Homo sapiens: one gene and its partners. The protein of the gene in region 2 interacts with the protein of the main gene of each other region in a pairwise test. Each region holds a gene or a part of one and is shown on either strand. Other genes may lie near its edges. The genes, in order: IGFN1, POU6F2, PKN1, FOSB, STAC, SMYD1 and PADI4.

What was found.
Region 1: the proteins of POU6F2 (region 2) and IGFN1 interact in binary tests that used the Homo sapiens proteins (3 or more experiments, as listed by UniProt).
Region 3: the proteins of POU6F2 (region 2) and PKN1 interact in binary tests that used the Homo sapiens proteins (3 or more experiments, as listed by UniProt).
Region 4: the proteins of POU6F2 (region 2) and FOSB interact in binary tests that used the Homo sapiens proteins (3 or more experiments, as listed by UniProt).
Region 5: the proteins of POU6F2 (region 2) and STAC interact in binary tests that used the Homo sapiens proteins (3 or more experiments, as listed by UniProt).
Region 6: the proteins of POU6F2 (region 2) and SMYD1 interact in binary tests that used the Homo sapiens proteins (3 or more experiments, as listed by UniProt).
Region 7: the proteins of POU6F2 (region 2) and PADI4 interact in binary tests that used the Homo sapiens proteins (3 or more experiments, as listed by UniProt).

The regions. Positions count from the first base shown.
Region 1 is NC_000001.11:201,197,324-201,200,823, reverse strand, and holds part of IGFN1 (immunoglobulin-like and fibronectin type III domain-containing protein 1), read right to left. Parts: intron 1,491-3,500; coding exon 1,446-1,490; intron 1,216-1,445; coding exon 1,170-1,215; intron 588-1,169; coding exon 413-587; intron 1-412.
Region 2 is NC_000007.14:38,984,409-38,987,908, forward strand, and holds part of POU6F2 (POU domain, class 6, transcription factor 2), read left to right. Parts: intron 1-468; exon of another isoform or gene 469-513; intron 514-3,500. UniProt on the Homo sapiens protein: Probable transcription factor likely to be involved in early steps in the differentiation of amacrine and ganglion cells. Recognizes and binds to the DNA sequence 5'-ATGCAAAT-3'. Isoform 1 does not bind DNA.
Region 3 is NC_000019.10:14,460,806-14,464,305, reverse strand, and holds part of PKN1 (serine/threonine-protein kinase N1), read right to left. Parts: intron 640-3,500; coding exon 564-639; intron 479-563; coding exon 337-478; intron 247-336; coding exon 153-246; intron 1-152. UniProt on the Homo sapiens protein: PKC-related serine/threonine-protein kinase involved in various processes such as regulation of the intermediate filaments of the actin cytoskeleton, cell migration, tumor cell invasion and transcription regulation.
Region 4 is NC_000019.10:45,470,996-45,473,337, reverse strand, and holds part of FOSB (protein FosB), read right to left. Parts: intron 2,145-2,342; coding exon 2,037-2,144; intron 788-2,036; coding exon 326-787; 3' UTR 1-325. UniProt on the Homo sapiens protein: Heterodimerizes with proteins of the JUN family to form an AP-1 transcription factor complex, thereby enhancing their DNA binding activity to gene promoters containing an AP-1 consensus sequence 5'-TGA[GC]TCA-3' and enhancing their transcriptional activity.
Region 5 is NC_000003.12:36,481,504-36,485,003, reverse strand, and holds part of STAC (SH3 and cysteine-rich domain-containing protein), read right to left. Parts: intron 2,013-3,500; coding exon 1,912-2,012; intron 28-1,911; coding exon 1-27. UniProt on the Homo sapiens protein: Promotes expression of the ion channel CACNA1H at the cell membrane, and thereby contributes to the regulation of channel activity.
Region 6 is NC_000002.12:88,066,497-88,070,624, forward strand, and holds the start of SMYD1 (histone-lysine N-methyltransferase SMYD1), read left to right. Parts: upstream 1-1,328; 5' UTR 1,329-1,368; coding exon 1,369-1,505; intron 1,506-4,128. UniProt on the Homo sapiens protein: Methylates histone H3 at 'Lys-4' (H3K4me), seems able to perform both mono-, di-, and trimethylation. Acts as a transcriptional repressor. Essential for cardiomyocyte differentiation and cardiac morphogenesis.
Region 7 is NC_000001.11:17,360,197-17,362,350, reverse strand, and holds part of PADI4 (protein-arginine deiminase type-4), read right to left. Parts: intron 1-2,154. UniProt on the Homo sapiens protein: Catalyzes the citrullination/deimination of arginine residues of proteins such as histones, thereby playing a key role in histone code and regulation of stem cell maintenance.

The DNA of each region.
Region 1 (3,500 bases), on a different chromosome or scaffold from region 2:
AAACCAGGTACCTCCCCCCCGCAATCTGGTGACAATGATAATGATAGCAAAAATCAAGGCACTAAGCTAAGTACTTTAATTACATTCTCTCATTTATCCTCCCAATAACCCTACAAGGTAGGCATGACTATAATTCCCATTTTACAGATGAAGACACCAAGATACAGAGGCCCTAACCCTTCCAAAGCTCCAGAGTTTAGTAAGTATCAGAACCAGGTTGCAAAGGCAGGACACCAACCTGGGATCCCAGGGCCTTAGCCAGATACCCCACTGGGGACTAGATGGAGACAGGCCCCTTGATCATACTTGGTTTCCTAAGTTCTGCCTCCAAGCCCACCTCCAGGTGTGAGGCACCTATGGTCCAGGTGTGTGGGGTGGGCATGGAGTGAGGGGTGGGAATGGGGTGAGGCACCTGTGCCATCTTGTCCTCCTGTTCCTTCTTCATCTCCTGCAGCCTGCGCAACATGCCACGGTAGTCGACGATGCCATACTTCAAGCAGATCTTCTCGTAGTCCTTCCTGTCTGCTGTCATCAGCAGCTGCCATATCTGCTCAAGGTCCATCTTTTTCTTGGGGGCTGGTGGGGCCCTGGGGAGCAAGGCTAGCAGGTCAGAGGCCAGAGGAATCCCTGCTCCTCTGTTGGCCACCTGGCTCTGGTGTCCCAAGTAGTTCTGGGAAGCTGCTCTATCTGCACTCGAGGAAACGCAGAGCCTGGAATCTCTGGGACTGACCACTGTTGAGGCCAGAAGGATTCAGAGATGGGTGGGGCGAGCCTCAGCCTCACCCCACAACTTTCAGGAGAAATGCTCCTGACAACTTGTATTGTAGATTTCTAAGTAGGATGTCTGGGGAAAGTGGGTGTTGCATTGTTCTGTTGCTTAAAAAAAAAAAGTACATCATTGTTCTGGTGGACCACCACATTTTGCAAATGAGGAAATCAGAGGAGAGATGATTAACTCAAGGATATAGAGCTTTGAAATGGCAGAGCTGGAGCTCTGTCCCATTCCCATCCAGTTCAGTCCCCTTCCCATCCTCCCATCTGCTACTGGCAGTCTAGCTCCCTGCTGTGTTGGGTAGAGGTGGGGCTCAAGCCCAGCTTACTTATGGAAATAGCAGGGGGTGAATACTATGGGAGCCTCCAAAATCCCTCATGGACAGGCCCAAACCCACCTCTTTTTCAGCAACTTCCGGAAGTCCATCAGCTCCTTCCTGAGGTCTGAAAAAGGAGCAGGAATGAGGCCTCAGTCCCAGGTGGGATGACTGAGGGTTGATGCAGAGCTTTTCTGTGTTGTCCATGCTGACAACTGAGCCTTTGGAAGGGGCTCTCTTGAAGACTGGTGGTGATCCACAAGGTGTTCATGGTAGCTCAACCAGGCAGGGAACACCAGGAAAGGAGTAGCCTATCCCCCACAGGCCCCCAAGGAGGTTTCTGACAAATCTGCCTACCTTCCTGCGGTTCCCTGTGCCTCTTCCGATTCTTCCGAAAGCCAACTGCAACATCCAGGGAGGAGAGGAAGGAGTCGATGTGGACAAGCAGGGAGAGAAGCAAGACATGTTGATGGTCTTCCTGAGAAACTGATGGAGTCCCAGAGCCCTGCTCTCCCCACTGTCCTCTAAGGCGTGGACGATCCCAGCAAGAGGGATGGAGCAGGGTGGAGGGTCTGTCCATCATAAGCCTTTTTACCCTAGAGCCTTACCATGACCAAGGGGACCAACCTAAGCATCATCTCATGCAGGGGAGGCCCAGTCATGTGTCCGCAGGGGCCAGGGAGGTGGCATAAATGCGTGAAGCAGACACTGGCAACCACAACAAACTCAAGAGTATCTAAAGGGGCAGCTGCTCTTTCACTCCACCTGGGAGCTGCCATTTCAGGGTATAGGCCCAATATTGCCAAATAGGTCAGACATTGCTGTTTGGCTAATCCTGCAGCCATTTGTATTCTTCATCATCTGCTTCCACTAGAGAGGCTGAAAAAGCTAAACACTCACCTTCCCCAGCTTCCCTTGCAACTAGCAGTGCTCATGTGACACTGTCCTGACCAATGAGCTCCAGGAATTTCTGAGAAAGCCTTTGCTTCCTCTATAAAAAGGGTGGATGGACTGGTCGTGATGGTTCATGCCTGTAATCCCAGCATTTTGGGAGGCCGAGGGGGGAGGATAGCTTGAGCCCAGGAGTTCCAGACCAGCCTGGGCAACACAGGGAGACCCCGCCTCTACAAAAAAAATAAAAAAATTAGCTGGGTGTGATGACACATGCATGTAGTCCCAGCTACTTGGGAGGCTGAGGTGGGAGGATCACTTGGGCCTGGGAGGTCAAGGCTGCAGTGAGCCATAATCACACCACTGCACTCCAGCCTGGGCAACAGGTCTCAAAAAATAGAAAATAAAAGGCCAAGCACAGTGGCTCATGCCTGTAATCCCAGCACTTTGGGAGGCCGAGGCAGGTGGATCACCTGAGGTCAGGAGTTCGAGACCAGCCTGGCCAACGTGGTGAAACCCTGTCTCAACTAAAAATACAAAAATTAGCCAGGCATGGTGGTAAACGCGTGTAATCCCAGCTACTCAGGAGGCTGAGGCAGGAGAATTGCTTGAACCCGGGAGGCAGATGTTGCAGTGAGGTGAGATTGTGCCACTGTACTCCAGCCTACGCGATGGAGCAAGACTCCAGTCCATCTCAAAAATATAAAAATAAAAATAAGAGAGGCAGATGGACCTGGGCCACCTCTTCCACCTTCCTACCTTGAACATGGATTATGTTTGAATCTGCCACAGCCCTCTTATGGCCATGAGGTGATAAGCCAATCTGCTAAGGATGGCAGAGCAGTGGGAACGAAGGAATCAGCTCTCCGATGGCAGCCCTGAGCTGTGGTATGAGCCCTGGACGCCACTCGCAAAACTTCTTATGTGAAGGAATGAAATATCGTTATTTCTTAGGCTGCTCTTAGTAGGATTTTCTGTTAGTTGCAGGCAGATCAATTGTAAGCATAACCAATGGCGAGACTAGACCTGCTTCCTCAAGAGATATCTACCTTTTAATTACTACAGGTTGACAATTTTTAAAATTTCAAACACCACGCACACCAAAAAAAACATGTCTGAGAGAGAATTTGGCCTTTGTGTGACCTGTTTGTCAACTCTGGCATAGGCCTGTCCAAAATATCCTTTGCATGGTGGAGAAACTGAGACCCAGAGAGGAAAACGAAGCCCATTGAATGAGTTAGCAGAAGCTCTAGGACTAGAAGCCAGCTTTCAGGTCCTGCTCATTTACTGGGCCAAGAGAATATCCTTCAGAGTATCTGCCAAGGTGTGCCTTTTTAAACACATGCAGACTCAGTGTGCATGTGGATGAAGCCCGGGGCCCAGCACAAGGTGGGGCTGCAGCAGCGGCAGCAGCCTGGATGGGCCTCCCTTCCCTCCCCTCCCCTCCCTCACTAGCCACGGGGCATCTGATTCCTCTGTGGGTCTCTGCCCTGTGCACTGATGAGACAAACTCAGGGAAAA
Region 2 (3,500 bases):
GAAAGAGAGACAAGACCTCGAGCAAAACAAAGCAAAAAGGCAGCAGAAAACTCACCAATATACTTGCTTCTTTAGTTTATATTTCTAAGTTATTTTGTAAGCTTACCTCATCTCACCTAGCAATTCAAATCACACACAAAAAATACAGTGAAATAATACGTTAGCACAGGAAAACTAGAATTAAAAAACAAAGTCTAAGAAAAGGCCTCACAGTGCTTGTGCTGTACACAAATTTCAATATTAAGGAAAACTTTTCTTTAAATCTTTAGAGTTTTTACAAGAGGTTAGCCAGTGCTCCGATGCTGTGAAATAGTACTTATTATTTCTGGAGTTTAATATGATGTTGACCCTGCATATTTTATGACTTTGATTTTTGATGAATAATTTAAAACTATTTTTAGAAGAAAATATTTATCTCTAACATCTAAAAACTTAGAGAAACAGGTATATTTTTAAAAGAATACATACCTGTTAAATGGTGTTTTTAGCATTGATCAGAACTCAGGCAAATTCCTGTTCAAAAGAACAAAGCACAACATTTATAGGGAGCTTAGTTTTCAGTGCAGAATTCATATACAGATTTTTTTAAAGGAAGTAGGTTTTTGTTGAGAGTAAAAGGTAAATATTGTACCAAGACAGAAGCAAGGATACCAGAAGCCGTAATTGATACTGAGGAAATATGAGAAAAGTAGATATTTCTTAATTCTTCAGTTCTTTTCCTCCAAATTGGAAGGGCAGAATGGGCAAGAATGGAGCTGGACACACAATAGTAGGGACTATGGCACGCCAAACTTGCTTCAGACACAGCTAGTTAATTTTGTAAGTCTTAAATAATACTAGAAAACAAGCCTCTTTCAACCTTTTCTCCAAAAGGTTGAGAGTTAGGACAAATGTAAAATGCTGCTTAATGGGCACAAATAAAACAAGAACATCAAACTCATTTCACTTAGTGTCAGTCCTGATGATTCATCATTATGGTCAGGGCGAACTCTGGTCTTTGGGCCGAAACAATTTTATCCATTAAAAAAAAATCCAGAATGTTCCAGCTTGAATCTTATATCCTTAGGGTTACAATATTGAATTCCGAATCGGGAAACTTAATCTTGCAGCCAGATTTGACAAGATGCTGGTTGAATGGTGGGCAGAAGTGATGATTGTGGGATGAAATGCCCTAGGTCAGAATTTGAGAAAAATAAGAGATTTTGTGAAAGTTTGGCTGTGATATAAGAATGCCAAGTTTGAAAATTTCTCTCTGTTCATATCAGCAGATGGTGTTCCAGGGTCTTAAAAGTAAATCTCTGCTGTATTCATTTTCTCTGTTTCAATATTTCTTGAACAAAGTGAGTCTTTACACATTCTTAGGTGCATTTCTTGGTGTATTTCTAGAACTGCTAATACAAGAGGTGTTTGTAGTAATATTCAGAAGGTTTCTGGGAACGAAGGCTAATATGGCTCAAATCCCAAACAGTCCTACATTGTTCCTAGGTAATATATTAATCCTCAATTCAAGAACTAAAGTTGTGATTTCTTTTCTGAAAACTTTTTTCATTTGTAAACAAACCTATATCTAGATTCCTAGTGACGAAAGAATTTAGAGTAAAAATGAAAATGAGGCAGTCTAGCAATCTAATTCATTAACACACACGCACACTCACAGACATACTTTAAACATTTTGGGAATACTTGACTATTTAACCTCTAATAATCTAAAAATATTTTGTCTCTGTTTTCAATCTTAGTACCTGAAAAAATTATGACAGATGTTTACTTAAAATACTCCTCTCAACTTGGTTGAGAATGGAAAAATACTTTGCAACTTTTTTGTTTTTGTTTTGAGATGAGGTCTTGCCATGTTGCTGAGGCTGGCTGTGAACTCCTGGGCTCAAGAGACGCTCCCACCTCAGCCTCCTGAGTAGTACTTTGCAGCTGTTAAACATCAAGTTTGTGGTAAGAATTCGAGTACATAGTCGATTGGAAAACTGCAAACGTATGAATATTGTGGTTATTTCCTTCCAAAAACAGGGGGGCTCTTTGGTTTGCAATGTACTGCCATTTGTACTAGTGCTGAAACCTATCAACTGCAATTGCTTTCTCCCTTTCTACCTTTATTTATCAAATAGAATTTAAACAGCTAGTTCAGGCAGAGAGTGGAACATCTGAGTAAAAGTGACAGTACATGAACGCAATTCTTATATGCACGTGATTGAAGTGAGTTAATTACATGGTAGACTCCTATGAGTATTTTTGAATTTTTTACTAAAAAATTATAACAGTAATTTCTGCATATGGCAAACCATTGCAATAGCACAGAATAATATAAAGTGGAAAGTAAAGTATCCTGATTCCACTCGCCACAAATAACCACTGTTAACTATTTCTTATATATCCTTCCAGAGATTTTCTGTGCATGTATATGCAATCCTTACACAACCCAAGTAGAACTATACTATACATAGAGTTCTGCAACTTACTTTTACATATAAAAAATATTTTGAACCTCTTCTCATGTGACTATGAATAGATCTGCATCCTTCTCTGTAGTACTCCCTTTTATGGATATACAGTGATTTATTTAACCAGTTCTCTCTTGATCTAGCTTTTAAAAATAAGTTAGTCTCTGCAATCAGTCTAACAAGTAGAGAAGTTTCATTTCTCTTAACATAAAAGATTTCAGAATTTTCCAAATAGGATTTGTTTGAGCAGAAGAACTCATAAATAGTGTCTCCTGAGAGAAGGTTAAGTGTAATGTTAAAAGTGAAGAGTAGCTTTATGCCACAAGAAAAGATACTTATCATCTATATATTGAATACTCAAACCAATTAAAATAGCAATAAAGATCACAATATTTTATTTAGTAACAAAGAGGTAAGAATGACAGAGAATGGCGTAAAGAGCTGGTTCTCAGTCAGACACACTGTGACTTGAAAACCTTTATGTTTGCTCCAAGCCACCAAACTCAACTGAACAAAATGCTTGTTATTTTCTTTCATGAGCCTCAATGCTGTTTATTAAGATAATTGACATAGATGTATGTTTCCAATGCATGATTCAGTTAGTGTATCTAGATTAGTGAAAAAGAGACCAGAAGAAATTCATGGTAATTAATGTCAGTTAAATTTCTGTTTTCTGTATTTCATATTGTCAGACCAATCCTTCAACCCTGATTCATAAGTTAAATAATGCAGTCACAAGCAGGGCTAAATAAAAACATGTAATGAGACTTAGCTCTTGAATTCTACTAATTTAGGGTTCTGAGAAGGTAGACAAAGTGTACATTATTGAAATATTCCAGAGAATGTAAAAAGTTATGTTTTACGTTTCTTTTAGGATATGTCTCTGCTCGTTCTCTTTAATTACGTCACCTCACATATACTAAGAAGACAGTAACGTAGGTGGTAATGAAATCTTATATTTGAATAAAAGATGGGAGTGTGAGCTGACCATGCCATCTTTCCCTACACAGACTTCCAGAATTGAGCCTATGGAACTGTCCATTGGGT
Region 3 (3,500 bases), on a different chromosome or scaffold from region 2:
ACACGTTTTAACCAGCATAGAGATCTGGGCCCTGGTTCTGCCACAGACATGCTGCGTGGCTCCAGGGAAGTTCCTAGTGGTCTCTGAGCCTGGAGCAGGACCCCTGACGCTGCCCAGGCCAGGCCTACGGGGATAGAAGGGGGGACCCTCACCAGGCTCGATGGGCTGGAAGGAGGATCCCGCGAGCTCTTCTGAGGTGAGCTGTCCGAGTCAGTGCCGAGGTTCAGCTTCTCCACCGATATGTCACTGCAGCAGACGAGAGGAGGGTGTGTCTGGGACCCAGGACCCTCGCAGGCTTCAAGGGGCAGCCGGGACCATGGGGCCCTCCTTCCTTACCCCGTGGTCCGGGCCTCGGATCCTGGAGAAGCCCCAGGGCTAAAGGTGCCTGTGCCCGTGGCATTGGGGATGAGCCTCCGGAGCAGCCGCACCCACGTGGCGACATCGATGTTCATCTGCCTAGCACGCTGGAACGCCTTCCCTGGGGGGACGGGGCAGGCGTCACCCTCCATGACACTCCCAGGACCCCTGGCCTCTCCCCCAGGAAGCCTGGAGCACCCTCTCACCTTGCTGCTTGGAGAAAATTTTCTTCTGCCGTCGGAGCCGAGGAATCCTCTCAATGACAGGGTTGCGGAAGGTGACCTGGGGGAAGGGACCAAAATGTGAGGACCCTCTGCCCACCTGCAGGCAGACAGCTTGGTAAGGAAGCCCCTGGGAGCACAGGTGTGCGCGCCCAAGTGGGGTTCTGGTCACGTGGCATCAGATTCAACCCGAGTACCAGGTGACAATGAAGAGGTCATCGGTGCAACCCATGGCTCCCCTCCTGAAGGGACGTCTTGGAAAAGCAAGAAGCAAACAACCGGGTCCCTTTCTAGAGGTGGGGAGAGCATCTGACCCAACAAGACTGACAGACAGCGACTGCAAACGGACGCCACGCCATCCCACACCCCATTCCCCACATGTGCTCCCAGACCCCAGACCTGCAGTAGCAGCAACACCTGGGAACTTTCTAGAAACGCAGGTTTGACCTACTGAGCCAGAAACATGGAGTGGAGGAAGCGCGCGCATGCTCTCTCTCTCTCTCTATATATATATATATATACACACACACATATATATATATACACACATATATATATGCACATATGAGTAGTCCGATCTCGGCTCACTGCAGCCTCCACCTCCCGGGCTCAAGAGATCCTCCCACCTCAGCCTCCTGAGTAGCTGGGACTACAGGCACGCACCCCCATGCCTGGCAAATTGTTGTATTTTTGTAGAGACGGAGTTTCACCATGTTGGCCAGGCTGGTCCTGAACTCCTGGGCTCAAGCGATCTGCCCACTTTGGCCTCCCAAAGTGCTGGGATTACAGGCGCGAGCCACCGTGCCCGGCCCTAAAGCACTCAGTATTTCAACAAGCCCCCAGGCAATGCTGGTGCCCACCCATCTATGGAAGCCACCTGTCAAGTTGAATTCTCCCAACTCCAATACAACTTCTAGAAGGTGCTGAAGTCACAGAACTGCAGTGTCTGGTATGGTTGTCACATGTGGCGATTTAAATTAGTGAAAATGTCAGCGAAATTAAAACTTTGGTTCCCTGGTCACACTGGTCACACTTCAGATAGAGAACATTTCCATCTACAACAGAACTCAGCTACTGTGGGTGCATCGACAACAGAGCTGCAGAAAGTTCCTTTTTTCTTTGAGACTCTGTTGCCCAGGCTGGAGTGCAGTGGCGCAATCTGGGCTCACCACAACCTCCACCTCCCAGGCTCTAGAGATTCTCCTGCCTCAGTCTCCCGAGCAGCTGGGATTACAGGCACCCACCACCAAGCCCGGCTAATTTCTTTTTTTTTTTTTTTGAGACACAGTCTCACTCTGTTGCCCAGGCTGGAGTACAGTGGTGCGATCTTGGCTCACTACAACCTCCGCCTCCCAGGTTCAAGTGATTCTCCTGCCTCAGCCTCCCAAGTAACTGGGATTACAGGCGTGCGCCACCACACCTGGCTGATTTTTGTATTTTTAGTAGAGACTAGGTTTTTCCACGTTGGCCAGGCTGGTCTTGAACTCCTGACCTCAGGTGATCTGCCTGCCTACCCTCCCAAAGTGCTGGGATGACAGGCGTGAGCCACCGCACCCAGCCGAATTTTTGTATTTTTAGTAAAGACAGGGTTTCACCATGTTGGCCAGGCTGGTCTCAAACTCCTGACCTCAAATGATCCATCCGCCTCAGCCTCCCGAAGTATTGGGATTACAGGCGTGAGCCACAGCGCCCGGCCAGAGCTGCAGAAAAGTTCTATGGAAGAATGCTTCTGTATAGGCATAAAAACAAAATAGAATGCCACAGAGAGACCTTGAAGGCAAGGAGAAACGCTTTAGAATGTGTCCCCCAGGCCACCCACCATCACTTTCCATTTGGTTTGGGCTGTGTTCTGAATGGGAGAACAATTTTAAACCTCTGCCATCTGGAGTCAGCTCTTCTCCACGCCCCTTTCTTTCTTTCTTTTTTTTTTTTTTGAGACAGAGTTTCGCTGTTGTTGCCCAGGCTGGAGTGCAATGATGCGATCTCGGCTCACTGCAACCTTCATCTCCCAGGTTCAACTGATTCTCCTGCCTCAGCCTCCCGCGTAGCTGGGATTACAGGCGCCTGCTACCACACCCGGCTAATTTTTCTATTTTCAGTAGAGACGGGGTTTCACCATGTTGACCAGGCTAGTCTCGAACTCCTGACTTAGTGATCTGCCCGCCTCAGCCTCCCAAAGTGCTGGGATTACAGGTGTGAGCCACTGTGCCTGGCCCCGCCCCTTTCTTTCACTGGTGCTTGATGGTCAGACCAGGGGAGAACCTCTGCTTAGGGATATGGATATAGAGAGATGGATAAATAGACACAGAAAGAGACAGATATAGACGCAGGTAGATAGAGAGGGGCATGGACGGAAGGGTAGTTACAGATAGAGAAAGAGAGAGGGACTGATAGAGAAAGGGATTCATAGAAAGAGAAGGATGCATGGATAGATGGATGGATAGATAGATACAGCTATCGAGAGAAAAAGAGAGAGAGACACAGATAGATACAGAGAGGGATAGATAGAGACAGAGACAGGAATGGGTGGATATAAATAGAGATAGAGGAATATACAGAGATGGATGGATGGAGGGATGAGCATAGATAAGATAAATGGATGGATGGATAAGATGATAGATAGATAATATAGATGGATAGATAATATAGACAGATGGGTAGACGGAAAGATAGATTAGTTGATAGATAATATAGATGGATGGATAGATAGATATAGCTATATAGAGAAAAACAGAGGCACAGATAGATATAGAGAGGGATAGATAGAGATAGAGAGAGGAATGGGTAGATATATATACAGAGAAATATACAGGGATGGATAGATGGATGGATGATGCATACATAAGATTGATGGATAAGATGACTGACAGATAATAGAGACGGATGCATGGAAAAATAGATTGGTTGATAGATAATATATAG
Region 4 (2,342 bases), on a different chromosome or scaffold from region 2:
CCCCTCCCCACCCATCCCCAGAGCTTGGGTTGACGTCAGAGAGCCAACAGTCAGCTGGGGGTGTCCATCCCCTTCCCACCCCCTGTCCCCAAAGTCACCAGCTCTCCGGCCTCGCCGGGGCACAGAAACAAGAGGCAGGACAAAACACAAGGAATCCTCCTGTCCGATGGCAGTGGCGCAGTGGCCGCAGAGGGTCAGACGGAGGAGCCAGGGAGGCCACACACCCACTTTGTCTCTTCCCCTCTCTCTCCTCCTTCTCCTCCTCCTCCTCCTCTTCCAAGTCTCTCTCCCCCATGTGTTTGTTTGTTTTGTGTGTCTAAAGAGTTCACAGAGCGAGGAGGGAGGGCGAGTTCAGGGGATCGGAAGGCTGGTCACTGCCGCTGGTGCGTTGGGCGCCGGCGAACGCGGAGACCTCCGGGCAGGTGAGGACAAACGAAGAAGTGTACGAAGGGTTAACAACGGGGAAGGGGTCGCCGAGGACTTGAACTTCACTGTGTGTAAAGAGAGAAGCCGTCAGGTTGGGGGGTGCGTCTTGGCTGGTCTGGAAGGGCAGGGGCGGTGGTGGCGGGGGCGGCAGCAGCCAGCTGAAGCCATCTTCCTTAGCCGGTGCTGAGCCCGGCAAATCTCTCACCTCCGCCAGCGGGCCCGGCCCGGGCCCCTCTTCGTAGGGGATCTTGCAGCCCGGTTTGTGGGCCACCAGCACAAACTCCAGACGTTCCTTCTCCTTTTGGAGCTCGGCGATCTCCGACTCCAGCTCTGCTTTTTCTTCCTCCAACTGATCTGTCTCCTGAGGCCAGGGAGGCCAGGTCACAGAAGAGAGAGAGGAAGGAGAAAAAAGCATGTCAGTGACCGGGAAACTCGGGTCATGGCTCCCTTGGACTTGCTGCTGGAAGGCAGCCCCGGGCTGAGAAAAAACACCTCCTGAGATGGAGTCCTGGTGGCCATGGGAGTTGGGGCAAGGGTCTTGCCTTCCAGGAACCTCAGTTTCCCCCATCTGTCCAAAGGATGGTACAGAAGGGGCCAGGTTTATGGGGAAGTTTCTGGTGTGCAGGAGGTTTGTTGAATGAATGAACAATCGTTATGTGGTTGGTTTTGTTTTGCTTTTGAGCCAGAGTCTCGCTCTGTCCCCCAGGCTGGAGTGCAATAGTGCAATCATGGCTCACTGCAGCCTGGACCTCCTCGGCTCAAGCGATCCTCCCACTAAAGCCTCCATAGTAGCTGGGACCACAGTGGTGTGCACCACCATGCCCAACTAATTTTTTTTTTTCTTGGTAGAGACAAGTCCTCCCTATGTTTCCCAGGCTGGTCTCAAACTCCTGGGCTCAAGCAATCCTCCTGCCTTGGCCTCTCAAAGTGCTGGGATCACAGGCATGAGCCACTGTTATGTGTTTTTAATGTGTTCCCTTCTATTACCCCTCCCTCTCTACCTCCCGGGGAAGAGAAAAAGTAGAGAAGGAAAGTTGACAATTCCCTTGTTCCCTCAAGGAGTAACAGCTCACCCTGCAGGCATACAGCAGGGAACTCTCAGACCAAGGGAGGACGTAGGAAGGGAGTGGGTTTTGGGGGATGCCACCAGCACCAGGAGAGCTGTGGGTGGCTAGGGCAGGAGGTGGAATAATTTCATTTCACAGGCTTTCCAGAGTGTTAAGGGTAGAAAGAGCCCGGGAGATTTGATGAGGGTTTGCAGAGATGGAGAAACTGAGGCAAAATGGGTTGTTACTTGCTGAAGACCAGATGGGAGAAATGATGGGGGCGCCCCTCTCCTCAAGGGCCCCATGTGGCCCCTTGGGATGAAATGAAGGCTAGGAGAGTAGTCCGTGGGGTCAGGAAATGGGGGGGGGACCAGGAGTTGACTTAAGTCCATGGGGGTCTGTGTTTGTGCCCTGGGCTACCCAGTCTGGCCACAGCAGTACCTAGTTCCATGTGTGGAACGTCTAGTTCTCAACCCAGGATAAGGGTACAGGTGGAGAGGGGGCAGAGAATGGGGAGAGAGCTCCCCTCAACATCCCCTCTCCCACCCCAGGGCCTGTCCTCACCGCCTGGAGTCGGTCGGTCAGCTCCCTCCGCCGGTTCCTGCATTTAGCTGCTGCTAGTTTATTTCGTTCCCGGCGCACCCTTCGCTTCTCCTCTTCCTCTGGGGTGAGCTGAGTCAGGGAGATAGAGGCCATGAGATTTGGGGATACAGCACTCCTCCACCCATCCCGAACCTCTACTTCTTTCAGAACCCCCAAGAGCCAAAAAACAAGCCTCCGGTCCTCGCTCGTGTAGCAAGGATCTTGGGGTTTCTGTAACACTGAGGCCTTAGTGGAGCCCCCCTCCATTCATAAGAAACTTCCTGCCTC
Region 5 (3,500 bases), on a different chromosome or scaffold from region 2:
GCTGTAGTAACGCCGAAACCCCTTTGGCTGGAGAGAGAATGAGGAAGGCAAGGGGTTAATGTCACTGGAGATGGAGAAAACCATACAAGAGCTCCCTAAATAAAACCAATTGGTTTCTCCAGGAGCACCCTCCTGTCTCCCATTAACATGCCGACTTATCCTATAATTCCACAATTTAATCCCAGCAGGGACACAGAGGCAGGGAGGAATAGTGGCAACTAGCAAGTTACACTCTATCCAGAAAACAAGGTCCTGGCCCTGGCCTCCCCAGTCGTGTCTGTCCTCCTCCTGCAGTGCACTGCAGCCTCCTTTGCATCCCAGATCCTCATTGCCTCCTGGATTACAAGTGGACTGCCACATATTATTTCACCACAGTTTGTTATTGTGGTTTGTTAAAATAATATAAATAAAAGGCCTGGGCATGGGTAAGTGGACCTCAGAGGGAGGCCTAAAAGCTCCTGTATATCTGAAGAGCTTTAGCCAGAATCATTTGCTCTGTAATCTGGATTCTATTCTCTGTTTTTCTGACCTCTCCTTCATGGTCTGTCTTGGCTTATGGGAATCACCACTGGAGAAGGAGAAGGGGAAGCAGGGGAGGCAGAGGTTTGAGAAAAGAGACATTGCAAATCAGAGTAAATAGATAAACTAAGAACCTGGACTTGACTGTACTCCATTACTGGATGGGAACTTGGTGGCCCAGTCCCTTCTAGAATTCCAGAATCCTGTCTAATGTTCCTGGAAAGTGGTGTCCCTTGTCGTTACACTGTCAGTGATGGGAGGGGGTGAAGGAGCATTCACTAACCCTGGAAGCAAGACATTATCTTTTATTGTTAAGACTTAGTATCCACTGATCTTAGGTCTTTCCCCAGGAGCCTCAAAGGACAATGGAGTTACTCTTCTAAATTTTAGGTCTAAAATTGTTGAAGACAGCTGTTGATGTCCTGTCTAATTATTCTCTAGGGTAGACATTCTTCGTCCTTTCTACAATTCTTTGGCCATCCTAGTTTCAAACACCCTCAAATGCGCTCTGGATTGCTTTTTGAAAAAAAATTTTTGAGACAGGTTCTCACTGTCACCCAAGCTAGAGTACAGTTGCGCAATAATGGCTTACTGAAACCTCTGCCTTCTGGGCTCAAGCGATCCTCTAATCTCAGCCTCCTGAGTAGCTGGAACTACAGGCACACACCACCACACTCAGCTAATTTTTAAATTTTTGTAGAGACAGGGTCATGCCATGTTGCCCAGGCTGGTCTCGAACTCCTGGGCTTAAGGGATCAACCCACCTTGGTGTCCAAAGTGTTGGGATTATAGGCGTGAGCCATTGTGCCTGGCTTGAATTGCCTCTTAATCAATATGTGGCACCAGGACTGAAGCCCATCCTCCTGAGATGGTATGATCAGCCATCTCAAGGGCCATTCAATCTCCCTTGGTTTGGGAGATTCTGTTAAAGTGGTGCAGATATTTATTACTCTCTCCTCTTTTGTGGGGGCTTAGCTCTTGTCCTCTCTTGCTACCCACTGAGCTGACCACCAAGGAAGCACTAGAGTGACCAACCATTAGTTTGCCTGGGACTTAGGGGGTTCCTGAGATGCATGACTTTCACTTTTAAAACCTGAACAGACCCAGGATGTGGGACTTTCAGTATTAAAACTGAGAAAGTGCCAACCTGGGAGAAGTTGGTCACTCTGTTAATGACCCTGACTCCCTTTCAAGGTGGGGCATTGTTGATTGGGTTGACAAAGCCCTTGTCCTTGTTTTCTGATTACGCCAATTAGGAAGCCAAGCTGGCAGCCAGTTCTGGGGTGCTTTGCTCAGGGTTTCAGGGAAGGATTTTGGAGGGGGTGATCTCACTGCAGCAGGCAAGTGCCCTAGCAGAGAGGTGTGGGCCTCACTCCTGGCACAAGCCCTTACCAGCTTGCCCATGCACCGCTGGGGTGCCAGGCCATCTGTGCACTTGTGGTGGATGCTCATCTTACAGGCTTTGCAGCGCAGTCCATGCTTAGCATTTGTTCCTGTCAGGTACATGGCAAACTTTGGTTAGGATACAACCTGCCATTTCCTGCTGATTAGTCTAAAATCACAGAAAATGAGGTTCCCCAGGTAATTCTTTCCTACAACTTTTTCATGAAGCTTTCAAAATAGAAAAAAAATATATATGGTAGATTCTTTTGCTTTCTCCTGCATTTTCTACCTAAGGTATACACTCTGGTTTATCTCCATCTTTCCTATTCACTACTCCAGGAACTCTAAGCCTCCTCCATGCCCTTTGTTCTCTCAATTCAAGCTAGTGAATTCCATTTTCTTTGCTTTTCATGTAGGTTACTCAATTCTACTTTTCTGTGTCTTACTGAGTAGTGCAAGTCCCGAAATTTGATGTATTTTCTTCTGTATTTCTATCACAGGAACTGAGCCGTTGGATAAATTCTCAGGAAAATGACTGATTAAGGGGGAAGGGCAGGTCTGTGTGAGAGTGGGGCTGACAGTCTTCTAAAGAAGGGGAGAGAGGACTCAATCAGATGCCAACCCCAGCCTGGGGAAAGAGGAAGAAGATGCGAATGATAATGAAATTGTGGCTGCGGTGAGTCACTTAGCTTCTTGGGACAGGGTGCTATCATGGAGTGAGAAGAAAGAAGGCTGAGAAGAAAAGGCAGAGAGCCATCCTGGTATCTTCATGCACAAAGGCCCAAGGCAGGAGCACTGGAGAGGAACTGGGAGGCCTAATAAGAGGGCAGGGTGTGGGGGCTTCAGGAAGATGGCAGGTGCTGCACACCGGTGTTCATTATTTCAGAAAGTGGCTGGATAAAGCTTAAGACGGATGTTAAAATGGGTGTGTTCTGCCTTCATCTAGTCACAGACAAGAGAATGCCATCTGCTCTGATATCCCAAAGTAAGATGGTAGGTTCCCAGGCAAGTCTCAAAAAGGTGCCAAAATGTATTTTTGCCACTCTTAGATGACCAAGCATCTCATGTATTAGAAAAGAGGAAGAAAGGTGAGGTAGTGGAGAGAGTATTTCTTTGCAGAGTTGTTGAGGCACTATCAGTCTTATCCCTCCTCCTTTACCATGATGAGAAGGATGGGGTGTGCTCTGTTGTCTCCTCAGTCCTGAGAGGGTTTCAAGGAGACTATTTTAACAGCTTGACCTATGTGAGTCTGTGGGACATATGGCTGTGGCCATACCCATTCTTGGAAAAAACTAAAAATAAGAGACGTGGGTGGCCAGGGGTCCTGTCAGCCTACTGAGGAGACAGCTGTGTGAACAAGGCCTGCACTCCAAAAGATTGTTAGGAAAAGGGTTGGTGAGTCCAACAAGTATGTGATTCTCATGGATCAGATATGGATTATGTAGAATGCTATGCAAGATGACAACCTGGAGAGACAACAGGATTTCAACAAAGTAAGTCTCTTTAGAGGGGAGATACAGGAATGAATATGTCCAGGTAGTATGAGACATGAAGTCAAGATACCCCACTGTACAGCACAGCCATCCACAGACCCAAAG
Region 6 (4,128 bases), on a different chromosome or scaffold from region 2:
AGGAACTAAAAATCTTACATGGAAGTCAAGCCAGAGCTCCAGATCTGCAAGTGTATTTCTTTTAAACCTCAGTAAAAGCTGCCTGATAGCCAAGAACAGTGGCATTTAGTTCAACGGGGATTTTAGATTCGTCTTTCCAGTGTCCTCACTCCTGAGTAAGAAGAAGGACAGAGCACGTTGGTATTTTCCTGGCAGCAGACACATGTTAAAGGAAATTTGATAGAAAGATAGAGATGGGGGTTGCTATTTTTATAGCCTGCCTTGTCTGTATCCAGCCTGCCTCCAGCATACCAGCATCACCAGCAGTGCTAAGAACAGGGAATTCCATGCTGTGGAGTAGGGGGTGCTGTAAGAGCCCCAGGTGATACTGGAGAGGAAAAATGCCCCCTTGGAGCCTAAATAGTACTGTTACGTATATGCCAAGGGCTCAGTTTAGCTTCTTCTTATTATTTATTTATTTATTTATTTATTTATTTATTAATTTTTTGTTGAGACGGGGTCCCACTCTGTCGCCCAGGCTGGAGTGCAATGGCGCGATCTCGGCTCACTGCAACCTCTGCCTCCCAGGTTCAAGCAATTCTCCTGCCTCAGCCTCCTCAGTAGCTGGGATTACAGGCGCCCGCCACCACGCCCAGCTAATTTTTGTATTTTTGGTAGAGACGGGGTTTCACCATGTTGGTCAGGCTGGTCTTGAACTCCTGACCTCAGATGATCCATGTGCCTCGGCCTCCCAAGGTGGGGATTACAGGCGTGAGCCACCGTGCCCAGCCCTCAGTTTAGCTTCTGCTGCTAAACAGTCCACCCTTGGGAGAGAGACTGAAAAGGGTGGGGCGAGGGCCCATCTCACTTGAGAAAGTGCAAGCCTGACAGCTGAAGGGTCCCAGAGCAGCAAATATCACCTTGTTTCTATGGGACCATTCCAGCTGTCTGCTTTTGATTGACAGAGGCATCTGGCTGCTAAAAATACCCTCCTGACCAAATGTTCCCTACTCCAACTAAAGCCGAACAGGATTGTTGCAGTTCAGAACTTAGCACATACAGATAGCTTCTGCTTGCAATGGAACCTCTCAAAACTTTTCAGGCCCTATGCCATATTAACCCATGGTCATTTTCTGTTCTGTCGGCTTTGCTGGGTGATGAATGAAACTCTTCCCAGTTCACTTGTTCTCTTGTCTGTCCCATCCCCACCTCCAGGAAAAGTAGCAGAGGGGGAGGTGAGGGCCCAGTAGCTGAGAGCGAGTAGGGAAGGGGAGGTGGCTTGTCCATTTATAGTCTTGCTCTTTGGGATGCTGAAGGTGCTGAAATAGCAATGACAAGAGACTTGGCTCAGTGTTAAATAACTGCCGCGCTGGCCTGACAGTCTCTGAGATGACAATAGGGAGAATGGAGAACGTGGAGGTCTTCACCGCTGAGGGCAAAGGAAGGGGTCTGAAGGCCACCAAGGAGTTCTGGGCTGCAGATATCATCTTTGCTGAGCGGGCTTATTCCGCAGTGGTTTTTGACAGGTATGAAATGTGGGGAGTTGCCTTCTCTCCTGTTAGTTTGGCTGGGGCCAAACTCTAAAATACTTTGCTCTCAAAAATCATCAGGGGAAGGGATAAAATTCATGTGCTCTTTTTTCAACAAAATGGCACTTCTGAGAGCTAATTTTTCTGGCACAAATTTTTCTGCAAGGGATCATTGCCAGTGTGATTTGCTGTGGCTCCTAGAAGGGTGGTGAAGGTGAGCAAAGGCTTCGGGGGCACTTTCTCCCAATACTGGCCAACTTGGCTGAGAGGGTGTGCTGGGAGTGGAAAGGTGGGTGTGGTGCTGTGGGAAACATTTTCCGACAGAAAGCTCTATATTTTTAGCTTTCTTTTTATTATAAATACATTACCAGATAAAGTAATTGCTGAGACTTTAAAAATTATGAACTATTTGTATATTTATAATTATGAATAACCCAGGAATCCACTTTCCCTTGAAAAATCTGAGTATCACCCAATCCCAGTCCCCTCTGTCTTTCCTCAGATATTACCCCTGCTATTATTTCAATGTATTTCCTTCTAGAATGTTCCTGTGCTATTACATACATATATCTGCACTTAACAAGATGGATGGCTGTAGTCTGTCTGGTTTTTTTTTTTTTTTTACAGAAATGGTGTCATACTTCAGATGTCATTTTAGAACTCACTCTTTTCCCTAAACAACACGTTTTTGATGTCTATCCTTGCAGGAACTTTAAATCTATAGATACTTCTTTTAAATTCCAAAGATCTATTTCCTTTATAGAGCTATCCATATAGATTCATATGCCATATGAATCATCAATCTTAATTTTAAATATTTCATCCTATAAATATATGACATTTTATTTATCCATTCCCCTATTGAGAGACAATTGGTAGTTTTTAATTTTTCATGAAATAAAATGAAAATCCTTGATCGTGTCTACCTGTACATATGTTCGATTGTTCTCCAGGGCACAGGACTAGAAGAGGAATTGCTGGGCCGTAGGATGTGATGTTTTCAGTTTTATAGGCTCTCCAAACAGGCTCTATTAAATTTACATTCCCGCTTCCTCACGACCTTGGCCACACTAGACTACCAAGCTTTTAAATTAGTAATAAATCTTCATTTTAAACAAACCTACATGGTGATTACATTAAATTGTCAATATTTTCTGAGATCAAGGTTGGGGTGACCTGCTTGACATCTATGTGGTTTGAGTCTGATAACCTAGGCTTTGTGGTTGGCTGGCTGCACTGACCACCCTGGGAAAGGGCACTGCTTCCCACAGATAACTTGATTAGTATTCACATTCTCTTGTCTTCCTGCCCACTAAGACCTTCAGGGAAAAGGGTGTGAACTGGGGCATATGGCTCACCACCACTTGAGGAAAATAAGGGGCTGAGGTGACTTTTTCAGGGGGAGCTTGTCTTATTTCATTAATCTGTGTGTGTGTATGTGTATGTGTCAGGGGAGGGGTGAGTACAGTTAGGGAGCCAGCTGGATTCAGAGTGAAAACAACCCAGAAACACAGGGACTGTCAACACTAATTCTGGCGCTGCCAGTGAGTTACTGCCTGGCCTTGTGAAGAACATCTCCATTTGCTGCTTCCAATTCCCCAAAGTCAATCTAGCCAATCAGTTCCATTTCAAGAAGGTTAAAGTTGAATGGGCTTTCATTCCATTATAAAAGCAAGGCATTGTCATTTTAGAAAATTTAGAAAGATAAGACATCACACAGCGATAACCACTCTTAACATGTTGGGTATCTATTTTCGGTTTGTTTTAAAACATAGGTTTCATTTGGCTGTAATATACTCATTATACAAGCTATTATGCTTTTTCATTTAATAATTTTGACATCTTCTGTGCTATTATACACTCTTCAGAGACATAGTACTTAAGGGCTACGTCTTCTTCTATTACCTGCTGATGACTGGCCATTTGGATTGTTTCCATGTTTTTGTTATTATAAATAATTTGTCATTCATTTGAAGTAACAACTATAAAAACACCTTCATATACATTGCAGATAAATGCTACATAAAATCATATATTATTTTTACAATGGTAATAAAAGTGGGATAATTGGTATAAATGACGTTTAAAATGATTGAAAAAAAATCTAAAAGAGATAGTTTTTTTTTCAAAAAATGCTTTACCCAAACTTGTCACTGCATAGATGAGGGAGCTGTGCTTTCTTTGGTTATACCAGAGACAGCCCAAAGAGGCATTAAAGGAAAGTTTTATGCATTTTAGGCTCCTGGTGAGGCTCAGCCACCATAGATGAGAAACTTGATTGCAGAGGTGGGACTGAGTCACCCACAAAAGTCACTGTACAAAACTGGCTTGTTTTAATCCATCTTACTGCAAGACAGGCTTTCCTACTCTTCCACACAAATGTGGAGAAAGATTTTATTTTTAGTTGAGCACTGCATTAAATGAAAATTAATTCTTTCAAACAGTGTGTATTATATATTCTAACATATATATTATATGTTATATTGTATATATTCTAACATATATTATATAAAGCATAGCAATAAATCAACACCAAACCAACTTAACTAGAATATTCCAATATGTTACATCTTCTCTATCCTGTTGCATGCCTGCTCCAAAGGTAATTATCCTAGGTTTT
Region 7 (2,154 bases), on a different chromosome or scaffold from region 2:
AGACAGGGTCTTACTCTTCACCCAGGCTAGAGTTCAGTGGTGCCATCTCAGCTCACTGCAGTGTCCACCTCCTGGGCTCAAGCAATCATCCTGCCTCAGCAGATGCCACCACGCCTGGCTAATTTTTGTGTTTTTTGTAGAGACAGAGTTTCTCCATGTTGCTCAGGCTGGTCTTGAACTCCTGGACTCAAGCAATCCTCCCACCTAAGCCTCCCAAAGTGCTGGGATTACAGGTATGAGCCACCCCTCCTGGCTGATTTCGTTCTTTCTGATGCTGCCCATGCTCTTAACACTACGTTCTCCTCCCCTACCTGTCACCTTCTGGTAAACTCTTTCTATTACTCAGGGCCCAGCTCAGATGGCAGCCCCTCTGTGAAACTGCCCATGAATCCCTGAGCTCTGGCAGTCACTCCTGCTCTGTGTTCCCATAACTCCCAGCACTGCGCCTTGCACGTCGTAGGCACTCAATAAACATCTGTTGACTAGACAGATAAATGACTGCCTCTGTTATGGCACTTTCCATATGTAAATAATGTATGTAAATGACTCTGCTTCCTCCATTAGATTGGCAGGTGGCCTGGTGAGGTGGGAAGGTGGGATTTTGGCTGTAGGCCTATGTGGGTTTGAATCCTAACTCTGCTATTCAATAGCTGTGTGGCCTTAGGCAAGTCATATCACCCCTCTGAGCCTCATCAGCAAAATGAGCCCAACACATATCTCCGTTGCAATGACAATTAGGTAAGAACATGTAGGCACAGCACTGTGCTGGCACACAGTAGATGCACAGCCATTTTCCATGGGTCATGAGTCCTCAAGGGGGCCACCGCCTAGACACAGCCCATGCGTGCTAAGTGCCTCGTACTGTTCATCACTCCCTCTTCCCCGCCTCCCACAGCCAGCTCCTGGGAGAGAGTCTGGTCTCATGCTCAGACTCCCTCTGGGGACCTTGAACAGTGAAGGCACACAGTCAGCCCTCAGCGTTGCTGACTACCATAGCCGCGGGCGTCCACTTTCATTCCCGCACTGGGAAGCCTGGCTTGGCCAAACTGGAGGGAAACAAAACGCTTGGGGTCAATACTTTAATTCCTTTTGGCCAAGGAACCCTTTATTCTACACACAATCTTTTGCAGAATGTCAATGCAGAAACAGAAAATCTGAACCACTGGATTTGAGGCACCACCCCGGAGCCCCAGGTGGGGCTGGCACTGCCTAGGCTGAGTGGGAACCCAGTTTGAAAACCACGGTGGTAGGGCCTGCTGGCTCCTCCCTGAACTGTAACCCCCAGCTCCAGAAGAAGGGGGTGGCTGGGGTTCCCCAGTAGGACCGGGTGAAGTCTCTGCCTCGGTCTCGGGTATGCTCTGAAGAGAGGGAGGAATGGGGCCAAGGAATGGCAAAAACACAATGGATGATATCAAGACAGCACTTAGGGGCCACGGTGAACGCTCAAGACAAAGGTGGGACCACCCACAAGTGCAGCCTCCAGAAGGTGAATCCCACTCAGCCTAGGCAGTGCCAGCCCCACCTCCTCACAGAGGCCTTCCCGGACCCTCCAGTCTGAGGTGGTGCCCCCACGTGTGTCCCTGTTATGGTGCATAAGGTGACTTGAGGGTGTCGTGTTTGTTGGTTGATTCCCTATCCATCCCTCCATCCCCTGCATCACCCCGGAGCCCCAGGGAAGGTGCTACGTGGGAAGGCAGCATGGTAGTTACGGCATGGGGTTTGAAGCCAGAGCCCTGGCAGAAGCGACGATAGACTCTGACTTCTGGAATTGTTGTGAGATACCAGAAGGTGCTCTGGAAGTGGTACAGGGCCATGCAAGCCTGTATAGAGCACCCTTGGCATAAGTGACTCCATCTTAGAAAAAGACTCCATCTTACATTTCAAAAGGCACCATGCTAACAGGAACCAGATGTTTGCCTAATCAACAGAGACTGCACCCAACCAGATAGGGACATAAGCAGGCATACTCTATTACTATCAGTCCTCACCAGAGGACTCTGGCTATAAAAAGAGCAGGTCTTCACTAGCTCAAGATGACTGTCTTTTTTTTTTTTTTTCCCGAGACAAAGTCTCACTCTGTTACCCAGGCTGGAGTGCAATAGCATGATCTTGGCTCACTGCAACCTCCGTCTCCCAGGTTCAAGTGATTCTCCT